Linked DNA regions of Homo sapiens: all the other regions are linked to region 1. Evidence: fine-mapped expression QTL. A gene starts in region 1. Each other region holds a variant in brackets. All regions are shown on one strand. Distances are between the middles of the regions.

Region 1 (4,000 bases):
CCACTGTCTCAAATTAGAGGGAAGGAAACAGCATATGTATTTGGTATATCAGCTAGAGAGGCAAAATGGCTCAAAGAGAAAAGCAACAAACAGAAATCTCCCTGAGTTACTGAAATCCTGGAGCAGATTTTTCACTTCAAATAATTATCTCATAAGTACTGTGGGTTTTAGAAAGAAAATAAAAATCTGGCCAGGTAGGATGGCTCACTCCCATAATCTCAGAGTTTTGGGAGGCCAAGGCAGGAGGATCACTGGTAGCCAGAAGTTCAAGACCAGCCTGGGCAAATAAAATAGACCCAGTCTCTACGCAAAATTTAAAACTCAGCCAGTCGTGGTGGTGCACGCCTGCAGTCCCAGCTACTTGGGAGGCTGAGGCCAGAGGATCGCTTAAGCAGAAGAGTTCAAGGCTGCAGTGATCTTGCCACTACACTTCAGCCTGGGTGACAAAGGGAGACTCTGTCTGTCTTTCTCTCTCTCACACACACACACACACACACACACACACACACACACACGAAACGTAAAAAAGAAAAATCTATAGTAATCAACTATTCTCATCTAAATGTTGCATATGGTTAACGTAGAAAAATAAATGACAAGTCAATCAGTAACACTGTGCATAGAAACCACCGTTAAGCACTTCATTCACCTGTTACAGAGATGCCAAATTAGCTCTTCAGTTTAGCTTATTTTAGAGTGCTAGTTATATTTGAACTTGATACCTATCCTCCAAAAAAACCAAAATATTTCCGAACATTAACTCACAGTCTTTCATGTCATCTCTGAACAGGAAAGGGGACATTTGCTGCCTTTTGCTTCAGAAAAATCAACCACCATACTGAATCATGTAATGGAAATACTTATATCTTGTTCTGAGGTTGCTGCTCAGATCTTGAGTGAAATATAATCACATGGTAAGGGGACCTGGGCCCTAAACACTTCATCCTGTCTACAGCTAAAGAATAGTACAGTATATGAGAATCCATCAGGATCATCACTTCTTACATGTGTTCGTATTGTCAGCACAGAATACGTAGCAAGTGTTCTACAGACGTCGAAAGAACTAGCAAACCCACTGTTGTTTGTGGCGCTCTCACTTCCTGTACTATTTTATTACTCAAGATAAGCCTAAAAGAACAGACAAAACTATCACGAAAACGATTTCTTAACAGAACTATTTTAAAACAAGAGAATCCTCAATTAAAATCATGCCATTTTCTTTCTCTGAAATCTTTAAATTACAGATGTGCTCATCTTTGTTGCCTGGATATGAGTTCTTTCAGCTGGGCAGCGGGAGACTCAAAGTAGTGACTTTTAAGGGATCCTACCAGAGGTGGGGGAGCCAATATAAATTACGTATCCTAATCTGAGACACTCTTCTGTCCTAATACCTGAAGCTTATAGCTTGTCAGGTGGCTTTTCCATGGAAAAACGAGGACATAAGAGAGAGGGCGGACCTTAAGAGTTCTACGGAGGAGCCGGTAACGGCAGCAGGCTTGTCAATCAACTGCAAGGTTGCAGCCCAAAAGAAAAAGAACTCACTTGATCGCTCATCATCGACTCCTCAGAGGCCCTCTAGGACTACCGAGAATCTCTTGCCCTTTGGCTCTTGCCCCCGACATCTCTCCTGGCCCCCCGCCCTGCCCCAGGAGGTCTGGTCCTCTCACCCGCTGCCAAATTCTCACACAGCCTCAAAGGGATCCTCAGGGCGTAAAGCAGCCCCAGCCCCGCCACGAACCACAACGAGGCCCCAGTCCCCGCCAGCCCGGCCCGCAGTCGCTCCCTCCAGCCTAGCGTCGGGTTTAGGCCAGGGACAGATGCAGGAGACGCTCCAACAGCTGCGGCTTCACCCACGCCGCCACGGTCCGCCATCTTGCCGCTATCGCAGGCGCCAGGAGCTGGGAGGGGAGAAGGACAGGAAACCGGGAGTCGGGAATCCTGGGATAGTGGCGGACCTGAAGTTGGCCTCTGTGAAGGCTGAGTCCTGGGGAACCGGGACCGAGAAGATTTCGAAGGTGGAGGAGCGTGTCTCAAGATTGGGGCTACCTGTTCTTTCGTGGGGCAGGGAAGGGGCGGACAGCAGCGCCTATTCTGGAGGAACTGGACTGAGATGTGACCCCGAAGTGTTACCGCTTCCAAACGAAATGAGGGTCACCTTTCACACCGCCCCCCCCCCGGGGTTGGAAAAGCCACCGATCGTTCCAGCTGCCGAGCAGCTCTTAAAGCTTTGGATTCGGCTGTCGTGGAGATAACGGGCACCAGAAAAACTTGTAGGAGTAGCAACAGCTATTTGGTCGGATGGAGGCCAGAAGCCAAGAATAATCGAAACACGCTGCCAGCGCCCATTAGATGGATGGGAAATGAGTGTAACTCATTGGGAAAGATATTAGACTTCAAATCACCTAAGGCAAACCCTACTTCCTGGGGCGCGGGCGCGGGCGCTGGCGTTAGGAGACGTCACTCCCGCGCATAACTGACATGGGGCCCTCTTGGTCGGCGTTTCCGGGCGGGTCCTTCCGACGGCCGCCGCGGTGATTCCATCACTCGGCTTTCTTCCCGGCCTGCCTCGCGCCCGTAGCCGGGCTGGGCCAGAACAGCCCAAGATGGCCGACTTCGATGATCGTGTGTCGGATGAGGAGAAGGTAAGGGGTCCGCCTCTCTCTCTTACCTCCTCCCCCGACAGGGAACTGGGGCCCGGCCCGGCTGCGTTGGGAGCCTAGCAGTGTCCCCAGGAAAAAGAAGCTTCTTGGTCCATGCTGACATACGCTCTCCGCAGTCGGGACGCTTCCCTCTTAGGGGGCTTTCCTCTGCCTCACGGTGGCCCCAGTTCCTCGTTCCTCGACTCTCCTTTTCTCTCAGGCCTGAGGCACAGCCCAGGGGCCTCCCTGCAAGGGAACAGACGTTTCCTTTATTGGATCGTGACTGTGGACTTTTTTCTGTAATTTTGCGAGAGGGTGGTGGTTATGTTGCGACATATCAAAAAGCAGTTATTTTACCGCCTTTAGCAGTTGGGGCTCACCCCATCCCCCCATTTGTAGATATAATTGGGGTTAGTTTAGGGCGAGTCACTTCCTGGTCAGGATGGCCTCTTAACTTCCCTTTTGCTCCTCCTTCCTCAGGAAGTGATTTTGCTGTCACGACTCTTCGACAAGGAGAGGTCCCAAATGTTGTCCATCTCCCTACACATGCACTACTTTTCTCCTGTACTGTCGCCTGTCTGATTCGCTATAATAAATCTGTGAGCCTCAGGGCATTTGCTTCAGAATTTGAACACCAGTCTTTCCCTATAGACACATCCCTTTTAACGATAATTTTTGAAAATTTTGTTTCTTGTTAACAAATCTAGAATAGCTGATGGATTTTCTTAACCTCCAGAAAGGTTTTCTGTAACACATAATAAACCTTATGTTAACACGTTCAAGACTGAACAAAGCATCCTGCCTTCTTTGATGCTCCACTGTGGAGTCTTTGATCAGTTGAATTTGTCAGTGTGCATTTTGTATGCTCATTTCTTGAAAAGGGTCTTAAATACAAGAGCACATTCTAAGGTGGAATAACTTTTCTTCTGACAGTTGCACAGTTTCATAACAGTTTGTCAGGCTTTTCAGTAAGTACATGGTTTTAGGGCACGTAGAACTTAGAATGACCTCACAAGGCAACTTATTGGACAAGAATTATGACATTTGTCTCCCACTGTGGCTATTAGAAAATGTGTCCCCTTGAGTGCTCTGTAAATCTACCTGGGTGTTTTTTTCAATAAGAAGTTGGGATGGGAAGGGGACTGTTATGATCCATAAGTCCTCTGTACGGAATAACTTGATATATGTAGATATGGCATGCCATTTTGAAATGTTTAACAAGCCATTGACAACAGCGTTAGATTTTCTCTTATTTGGAAACTGATCTTCATACATGTTTAAGATTTAGGACAAAAACATTTATGTATAAGCCTATGCTGGAAATCGATCTATAATAAATTGTTCTAAGGCAAATAGTTACT
Region 2 (4,353 bases), 78 kb before region 1:
CCAATCACCATTTATACTACAGTTTCTATGGAAAAATGCATTTTGAGCTGACTGTTAGGACATATCTCCTTTAAACAAGAAGGGGGTAGGGTTTCCCACTATTGCACTTTGGTGATGATGATGACAATAAAGGTAGCAACAACAGCTAACACTCACCTAGTTTTTACTGTGGGTAGACATAGTCCTAACACTTGCATATTTTAAAGTCATTTAACGCTCACCAAAACCCATGAGAGGTAGTATTATTCTCATTTTACAACTAAGGGTAGAAAAGGTTAAGTAACTAACCCGAGGTTGTACAGCATTGTTTCAGGGCTAGAATTCAAAGCAAAGCAGCCTGCCTCCAGAATCTATTTCATAATGACTCTGCAATGCTGCCTCTTTTCCACCTTGACAAGGCAGCACTATCGAGCTGTTCTAAATTCCTCTTATTGGGGGTAGAGTACAGCAAGTTTCTCCAAGCTTTAAATGTATATATAGGATCACCTGGGGATCTTGTTAAAATGTAGATTCTGATTCAGAAGGTCTGGAATGGTGCCTGAAGTTATGCATTTTTCATGAGCTCCTGGGTGATGGTGATGCTCCTACTGCATAGAGCAAACACTGTGAAGTGGTGAAGAAGTGTAATTTAAGCCTTTAGTTCCCTTGCTGTTTGTCTGTCTATAAAGGCATCTACACATTGTGTTTATAAGCTGGAAACTGGCCGGGTGCGGTGGCTCACGCCTGTAGTCCCAGCACTTTGGGAGGCCAAGGTGGGTTGATCACTTGAGGTCAGAAGTTCGAGACCAGCCTGGCCAACATGGCAAAACCCCATCTCTACTAAAAATACAAAAGTTAGCTGGGCGTTGTGGCACGTGCCTGTAGTCCCAGCTATGTGGGAGGCTGAGGCAGGAAAACTGCTTGAACCTAGAAGGCGGAGGTTGCAGTGAGCTGAGATCACGCCATTGCACTCTAGTCTGGGTGACAGAGCGAGACTCTGTTTCAAAAAAAAAAAAAAAAAAGAAAAAGAAAAAGAAAAGAAAGCTGGAAACTGCCCATACCACAGTCATTTCCCATTAACTCTTAAATGGAACCTGCCTTTGGAAATCCTGCACAAATATTGGTTTGCAGGAACTTTCAGTAAATACTTAGCTTTTAGGGTTTTAAAATGTACATGTAAAGGCCACAGGGATAAAAATGTGGCTGTAAAAGTTTACCATTAGGCACATTCTTAACACTATATACCATCACCTATACAGATACCAAAATAAATGCTTGTTTATTATCCATCAACTAGAAAAGCAGTATATCAATAACTTTTGGTCTGAAAAAGAAGCTTCCATTTAAAATATGTAATTATTCATTCTCAGTCTCTACTAGAGGAGTGCTAAGGAACTTATGCTATGTAATCGTAAAGATTCTTCTGGTGCCATTAGTGACTGCCTAGGTAAAGGCAGACACTATAAACATTAATTGTAGCTTGCACCCCATGGAAATATACTACTAACAGTTGGTATAGATCTATTCCAGATTCTAGATCTCCCTCCTTGCTCTATTTCACTTCCTTCCCACTCCACTTGCCTGAGACAAATCCAAGAATCATCTCTCCCATTGCTTGCCTGTGATCTCACATACACAGTTGCACATTTTCTTTCCAGCTATTAAATGGATGGAATTCTCTTTCTAGGCCATTTTTATTCGATGCCAGATTACATAGTAAGGTCATTTCAGTTTGAGATGCACTCACTCAACTATTAGCACTACTGCAAATAACAGTTATGAGTATGATCACTAAGTGTTCATTTTACACTGAAAAGAAATAGAATAGTCAGTTTCCAAACCAAATAGCTATACTCCCTGAACAACAGTGGAAAGTCATTCTTCTTGAAGTTTGACCCAGAATCAAGTGCAGACTCAGACTCCTAGGCCTACAGCCAGTGGCAACTTAACACATTATATGGTTGACCTTCAGGGAAAAAGGGAAACCACTGCTCTTACCACTGGTGCCAGAAAAAAGCCAACTAATCTTTAAGGCACAAAATAAACTATTCTTAAGGCAGAAAAAGAAACTGTGAGGAAACAAGTTAGAATGGAGGCATATAGAGAAAAATACAGAAAATACATTACCAAGTAAGGACTAGTTTTTCCATGGTTCTCAGTGTTTT[C/T]ATTTTTGGGAATATAATTAATCAGCATTTTCTTTTTGGGTTTTAACTCCTACTACCTGGTAGAAATGCAAAGATGTACAAGAAAGATGCATTTTTAAAAAGGCTTGGAGACTTAAAGGCAATTATCTTTGCTAATTTTACTTTGAGCCAGTGACATTAATAAGTTCATATAGAAAAGTAAATAGTTGCTGGGCATGGCGGCTCATGCCTGTAATCCCAGCACTTTGGGAGGCTGAGGCGGGCAGATCACTTGAGCCCAGGAGTTCAAGACCAGCCTGGGCAACATGGCAAAACCCTGCCTCTACAAAAAATACAAACATTAGCTGGGCATGGTGGCATGTGCCTATAGTCCCAGCTACTCGGGGGGCTGAGGCGGGAGGACTGTTGAACCCAGGAGGCGGAGGCTGCAGTGAGCTGAGATCGTACCACTGCACTCCAGCCTGGGTCACAGCGAGACCTTGTCTCAGAAAAAAAAAAAAAAGTAAATAGTGATGGGATACCCACTCTAGTATCAGTCCTCAAGTGTTAACTGGTTCAGGAAATGGGGAAGTAGTTCAAAACTAAAGGGTAAAAATGAAAATATAGAACTACACATGGTTCTATATCCAAGTCTGGGGAAGTAAGAACAAGCAGACACAATAACTTGGAGAACCTTTGAGACATAGGCACATTCTGTACCTAGGGACAAATGTCCCATCTGTTCCCCCGCCTTATGTACTTATTATCCATCCTAGTTGTGCTCTTGAGTTTAAAGTTCAACAAATCCTGAGAACTAATGATTTCATTTAAATGAAAAAAATCAAAGGGTTTGTTTACAAAATAGGGTATTTTTAAAAATACCAAAGATAGTAACAAATGCTGTTTATCACCAAAAGTGATCTATAAGAGCAAACTTTATAATGTTATATTGTTACAATCTTATATTGTATTCTTTAAACTTTTAAGCAACAGAAGTAGCTCAAATCACCAAAAATTTATGTTTGATGTATTTATGGCAGCAACTATATACAAATCAATTCCTTTAATTTACAACAAATATCTTCCATTGTTCAGCTGGGTTAGCACAGGCAGATCAGAGATGGTTTCTTGTGTGTTTTACAAATAATCTACACAAGTCCTTGAGATCATACTTACAGCTTTAGCAAAAATACCCATGATTTCAGGAAACTGGTGAGTGAGAATGGCTATCATTGCTGTAGAAGAGCAAAATCCTGCTGTGAAATGGATGAACAAAGGAAGCTCCTTTTTTGGGTAAACAGAAACATGATGAAAGGCTGCAATGGAGAATAGGTAAGAATCAATTTTATTTCAGAATAACATGTAAACAAGTCTTAATCTTTTCAAATGAAATCTGTTTTTAAAAATTAAAAAGAAAAAAAATTTAAAAAGGAAAGTCTCTGGCTAAGCAAGGTAGAAGACAGTTATCCATTATTTATCCCAGCATCAACAGCATATCTAAATAGCCAGACAACTGTGCTGGGTGTGGGAACAGGATGGCGTCATGGGAAAGAATATTGATTACAAAATCATGCTGAGGTGATTTTGAAAAAAAGCTTTGTCACTTATTAGCTATGTGATCTTGAATAAGTTGCTAAACCCTCTAGAAGTTGCTATGGAGAGTTGTAATGATGAACATTTTAAGTGCTTAATGTGAGTTGCAGCCACAGGTGGTGGTTCACGTCTGTAATCCCAGCGCTTTGGGGGGCCAAAGAGGAGGATCGCTTAAAGCCAGGCATGCGACACTAACCTAAGCAAAATCGTGCTTAAAAATTTTTAAAAATTTTAAAAATTAGCCCAGCATGGTGGTGTGTGCCTGTAGGTCCAGCTACTCTGGAGGATGAGATGGGAAAATCACTGGAACCCAGGAGTTTGAGGCTGCAGTGAGCTATGATCATTCCACTGCACTCCAGCCTGGGTGACAGACCTGTCTCTAAATAAATAAATAAATAAATAAATAAATAAATAAATAAATACATTTGAGTTGCTACTTTTTTTTTTGAAGAAGAAGAGTCTCGCTCTGTTGCCTAGGCTGGAGTGCAGTGACATGATCTCGGCTCACTGCAACCTCTGCCACCCAGGTTCAAGTGACTCTTGTGCCTTAGCCTCCCAAGTAGCTGGGATTACATGCACAGGCCACTACGCCCAGCTACTTTTTTGTATTTTTAGTAGAGAGGGGTTTTGCCATGTTGGCCAGGCTGGTCTCAAACTC
Region 3 (4,353 bases), 46 kb before region 1:
AGAATCGCTTGAACCCGGGAGGTGAAGGTTGCAGTGAGCCGAGATCAGCCCACTGCACTCCAGCCTGGATGACAGAGCGAGACTGTCTCAAAAAAACCAAATTCTTCAAAAAAACCTTAATAATTATTGTGTTTCATAACACTCGGCTTAAAGGGTCTATCTACAAACAATAATATAAGTTTATAGCATCACTCACTTAGCTGGATATTTTGAAATAGCTGAATTGTCAACTGCTTTGATATTTAGTTGAGGGGAAAATGGGTAAATTTCTACCTATAAATAAAAATGACATTAAAATGTTAAAGTGTATATGTGTGTATGTATATCTATCTATCTATATATCTATATAGTTTTATTTATTTATTTGAGACAGAGTTTCGCTCTTGTTGCCCAGGCAGAGTACAATGGCATGATCTTGGCTCACTGCAACCTCCACCTCCCAGGTTCAAGTGATTCTCCTGCCTCAGCCTCCTGAGTAGCTGGGGTTACAGGCATGTGCCACCAGGCCTGGCTAATTTTGTATTTTTAGTAGAGATGGGGTTTCTCCATGTTGGTCAGGCTGGTCTCGAACTCCTGACCTCAGGTGATCCACCCGCTTCGGCCTCCCAAAGGGCTGGGATTACAGGTGTGAGCCACCACGCCCAGCCTATATAGTTTTAATGAAGCATACTTTATATATCCCAAAATTCATGTTTGTAACTATAGACATATCTTGGACATATTGCAAGTTCACTTCCAGACCACTGCAATAAAGCAAATATCAAAATAAAGCAAGTCACACAAATTTTTTGGTTTCCCATGACATATAAAATTTACTTTGCCCAGATCCACCAGAGGAATCACTATATATGGGACCTACGGCCTTACTAAATGTATTTCTGAAATAATAGGACTTCCAAGTCAAAATGACTTCTTGATCTGTGGGCTGCAGAATGGCTGTTGTGTTAGCAGGTGTGGAAACATTAATCTCCTTGTACATCTCCAACAGAGCTCTTGGGTGACTAGGTACATTGTCAATGAGCAGTAATATTTTAAAAAGAATCATGTCTCAGCAGTAGGTCTCAACAGTGGGCCTAAAATAGTGTTTAAACCATGCTATAAACAGATGTGCTGTCATCCAGGCTTTGTTGTTCCATTTATAGAGCACAGGCAGAGAAGATTTAGCATAATTCTTAAAGACCCTAGGATTTTTGGAATGGTAAGTAAGCACTGGCTTCAACTTAAAGTCACCAGCTGCATTAGCCCCTAAGAAGAGAGTCAGCTTGTCCTCTGAAGCTTTGAAGCCAGGAACAACTTCTCCTCTCTAGCTATGAAAGTCTTAGTTGGCATCTTCTTCCAATAGAAGGCTGTTTCATCTACTTTGGAAATCTGTTGTTTCTCAACATGAGCAAAGCAGAAAAAAGAAAAAGAAGAAAAAAAATTTGAAGAAAATCTTTTGTTTATTATATCTACCTTCATGGAATAAATATAACTCTAAATCAAAGATGAAATTATAAACAGATTAGAAAATATTTTGGGCCAAGGGAGGTGGCTCACACCTGTAATCCCAGCACTTTGGGAGGCTGAGGAGGGAGGATGCTTGAGGCCAGGAGTTCAAGACCAGTCTGGGCAACATGTGGAGATCCTGTCTCTATTTTTTTTTAAAGAAAATATTTTGAACTAAATTATGTAAAAAATGTTGCTATAGTATGCAGTTAAAATTGTGTTGAGAGAAGTTTCTAGATTTAACTGGGTATATCAGAAGAAAGACGAAAATTACAGAGTTAAGTACCTATGTGAGAAGACACAGGAAATTAAAATAAAATAAACTCAAATTAAGTTGAAGGAAGGCAATAAAGAGCAGAAATGAATGAACCAGAAAATAAATAGTAGAAAAAACCCAACAAAGCCAGAGCCAAGTTCTTGGCAAAAACAAGTAAGATTGGCAAATCCCTAAAGAACCTGATCAAGAAAAATAAAACTAGCCAAGGTTAGGAATTAAAAAGTGGGGCCAGGTGCAGTAGCTTATGCCTGTAATCTCAGCACTTTGGGAGGCCGAGGCGGGCTGATCATCTGAGGTTGGGAGTTTGACACCAACCTGACCAATATGGAGAAACCCCATCTCAACCGAAAATACAAAATTAGCTGGGTATGGTGGCGCATGCCTGTAATCCCAGCTACTCAGGAGGCTGAGGCAGGAGAATCACCTGAACCCGGGAGGTGGAGGTTGCAGTGAGCCGAGATCGCGCCATTGCACTCCAGCCCGGGCAGCAAGAGCAAAACTCCCTCT[CA/C]AAAAAAAAAAAAAAAAAAAAAGAATTAAAAATTGAGTATTACAACTAATGCTGCAAATACTAATATGGCAATAAAAGGATTTTATGAATACCTTATGTCAATACATTTGAGAATTTTGATGAAATAAATTTTTAGAAAAATACAACTTAACAAAAACATAAGAAGAAACAAAAAATTTCAATAGTTATGATATGCTTAGAAATTGAATTTGTAATTAAACTATTAAAGAAATGAAATTTGTAACTCAAAGTCTTCTCACAAAGAAAACTGAAGAATCAGATGGCTTTAATAACAAATTTACTAATCATTTAGGGCAGAAATAATTCTAATTTTATACAAATTATTCCACAGAATAAATAAACAGGGACCACTCTTTAACTCATTTATAAATCCAGGGCCAGGCATATGTTTGCTCACACCTGTAATCCCAGCACTTTGGGAGGCTGAGGCGGGCAGATCGCTTGAGCCCAGGAGGTGGAGGTTGCAGTGGGCCAAGATCACACCACTGCACTCCAGCCTGGGCATGAGAGCAAGACCCTGTCTTCGTTTTTTCTTTTCCTGTTTTTTTTTTTTTTTTTTTTTTGAGACGGAGTCTCACTCTGTAGCCCAAGCTGGAGTGCAGTGGTGCGATCTCGGCTCACTGCAACCTTCATCTCTAGGACTCAAGTGATTCTCCTGCCTCAGCCCCCCAAGTAGCTGGGACTACAGGCGCACCCCACCACACCCGGTTAATTTTTTTGTATTTTTAGTAGAGACAGGGTTTCACCATGCTGCCCTGGGTGGTCTTGAACTCTTGAGCTTAGGCGATCCACCCACCTCGGCCTCCCAAAGTGCTGGGATTACAGGTGTGAGCCACTGCGCCCGGACTTTTTTTTTTTTTTTAATGAGACAGAGTCTCACTCTGTCACCCAGGCTGCGGTGTAATGGCACTATCTCGGCTCACTGCAACCTCTGCCTCCTGAGTTCAAGCAATTCTCCTGCCTCAGCCTCTCGAATAGCTGAAGAGTCTGTCTTAAAAAGAAAAAAAAAGCCAGACGCACTGGCTCACGCCTGTAATCCCAGCACTTTGGGAGGCCAAGGCGGGCGGATCACAAGGTCAGGAGATCGAGACCATCCTGGCTAACACTGTGAAACCTCGTCTCTACTAAAAATACAAAAAATTAGCCAGGCGTGGTGGCGGGCGCCTGCAGTCTCAGCTACTTGGGAGGCTGAGGCAGGAGAATGGCATAAACCCGGGAGGCAGAGCTTGCAGTGAGCCTAGATCACGCCACTGCACTCCAGCCTGGGCGACAGAACAAGACTCCGTCTCAAAAAAAAAAGAAAAAAAATCCATAAATAAAAAGTACAGATAAAAAACATAAAGGGAGGAAATAAACATAATTAATAAATAAGAATACAAATGAATAAGAATAGTGGTTACCTTTAGGTAGGAAGGGAGGTTGTAATGGGAAAGGGCAGTCAGGTAGGCGTCTGTGGGTTGATAATGTTCTGTTTCTTGATCTCGATAGTTTTCAAGCATTTACTTTGTAATAAATCATTAAGATGCACATTTTTGTCTCATACACTTTGCTGCATGTGTAGTAGAACTCATAATAAAAAGTTTACAAGGCTGGGCGCGGTGGCTTATGCCTGTAATCCCAGCACTTTGGGAGGCTGAGGCGGGCGGATCACAAGGTCAGGAGATCGAGACCATACTAGCTAACATGGTGAAACCTCGTCTCTACTAAAAATACAAAATAATTAGCTGGGCGTGGTGGCGCGCACCTGTAGTCCCAGCTACTTGGGAGGCTGAGGCAGAAGAATCGCTTGAACTCTGGAGGCGGAGGTTGCAGTGAGCCAAGATTCTGCCACTGTACTCCAGCTTGGGCGAAAGCAAAACTCTGTCTAAAGAAAAATAAAAGTTTACAGTACTCACTCCTTATCCTCAGTACATATGTTTTAAGACTCCCAGTGGATATCTGAAACCACAAATAGTACCAAACCCTACGTACACCATGTTTTTTCCTCTAAATATATGCCCATGATAGAATTTAATTTATAATTTAGGCACAGTAAGAGACTAATAACAATAACTAATGATAA

Direction of the effects. Positions count from the first base shown, and alleles are read on the strand shown. Sizes are in standard deviations (SD) of each study's normalised expression. Not every link is listed here.
For the expression in lymphoblastoid cells of the gene that starts at base 1,900 in region 1, allele CA in region 3 goes with a lower level than allele C (large effect, 1.0 SD a copy in CAP).

The links. PIP is the estimated chance that this variant, and not a neighbour inherited with it, causes the effect.
Region 2: its variant is fine-mapped to the expression of ST7L in lung (TOPMed, PIP above 0.99). The same link has a PIP of 0.9 or more in fibroblasts, lymphoblastoid cells, monocytes and whole blood.
Region 3: its variant is fine-mapped to the expression of ST7L in lymphoblastoid cells (CAP, PIP 0.95).

The regions. Positions count from the first base shown.
Region 1 is chr1:112,617,242-112,621,241 of GRCh38, forward strand. ST7L (suppression of tumorigenicity 7 like) reads right to left here and starts at 1,900. Exons shown (of 15, transcript NM_017744.5): 1 at 1,668-1,900. The coding sequence starts at 1,872. It overlaps CAPZA1 (capping actin protein of muscle Z-line subunit alpha 1), which reads left to right and starts at 2,591. Exons shown (of 10, transcript NM_006135.3): 1 at 2,591-2,642. The coding sequence starts at 2,604. RefSeq lists enhancers at 1,864-1,963, 2,072-3,271, 2,424-2,873.
Region 2 is chr1:112,538,673-112,543,025 of GRCh38, forward strand. It overlaps ST7L (suppression of tumorigenicity 7 like), which reads right to left. Exons shown (of 15, transcript NM_017744.5): 14 at 3,279-3,418. Among named protein-coding and RNA genes, the nearest start is that of WNT2B, 32 kb to the left of the region's middle. The variant C/T (reference allele first, on the strand shown) is at 2,145.
Region 3 is chr1:112,571,079-112,575,431 of GRCh38, forward strand. The region is part of intron 11 of ST7L (suppression of tumorigenicity 7 like); the gene reads right to left. Among named protein-coding and RNA genes, the nearest start is that of ST7L, 46 kb to the right of the region's middle. The variant CA/C (reference allele first, on the strand shown) is at 2,270.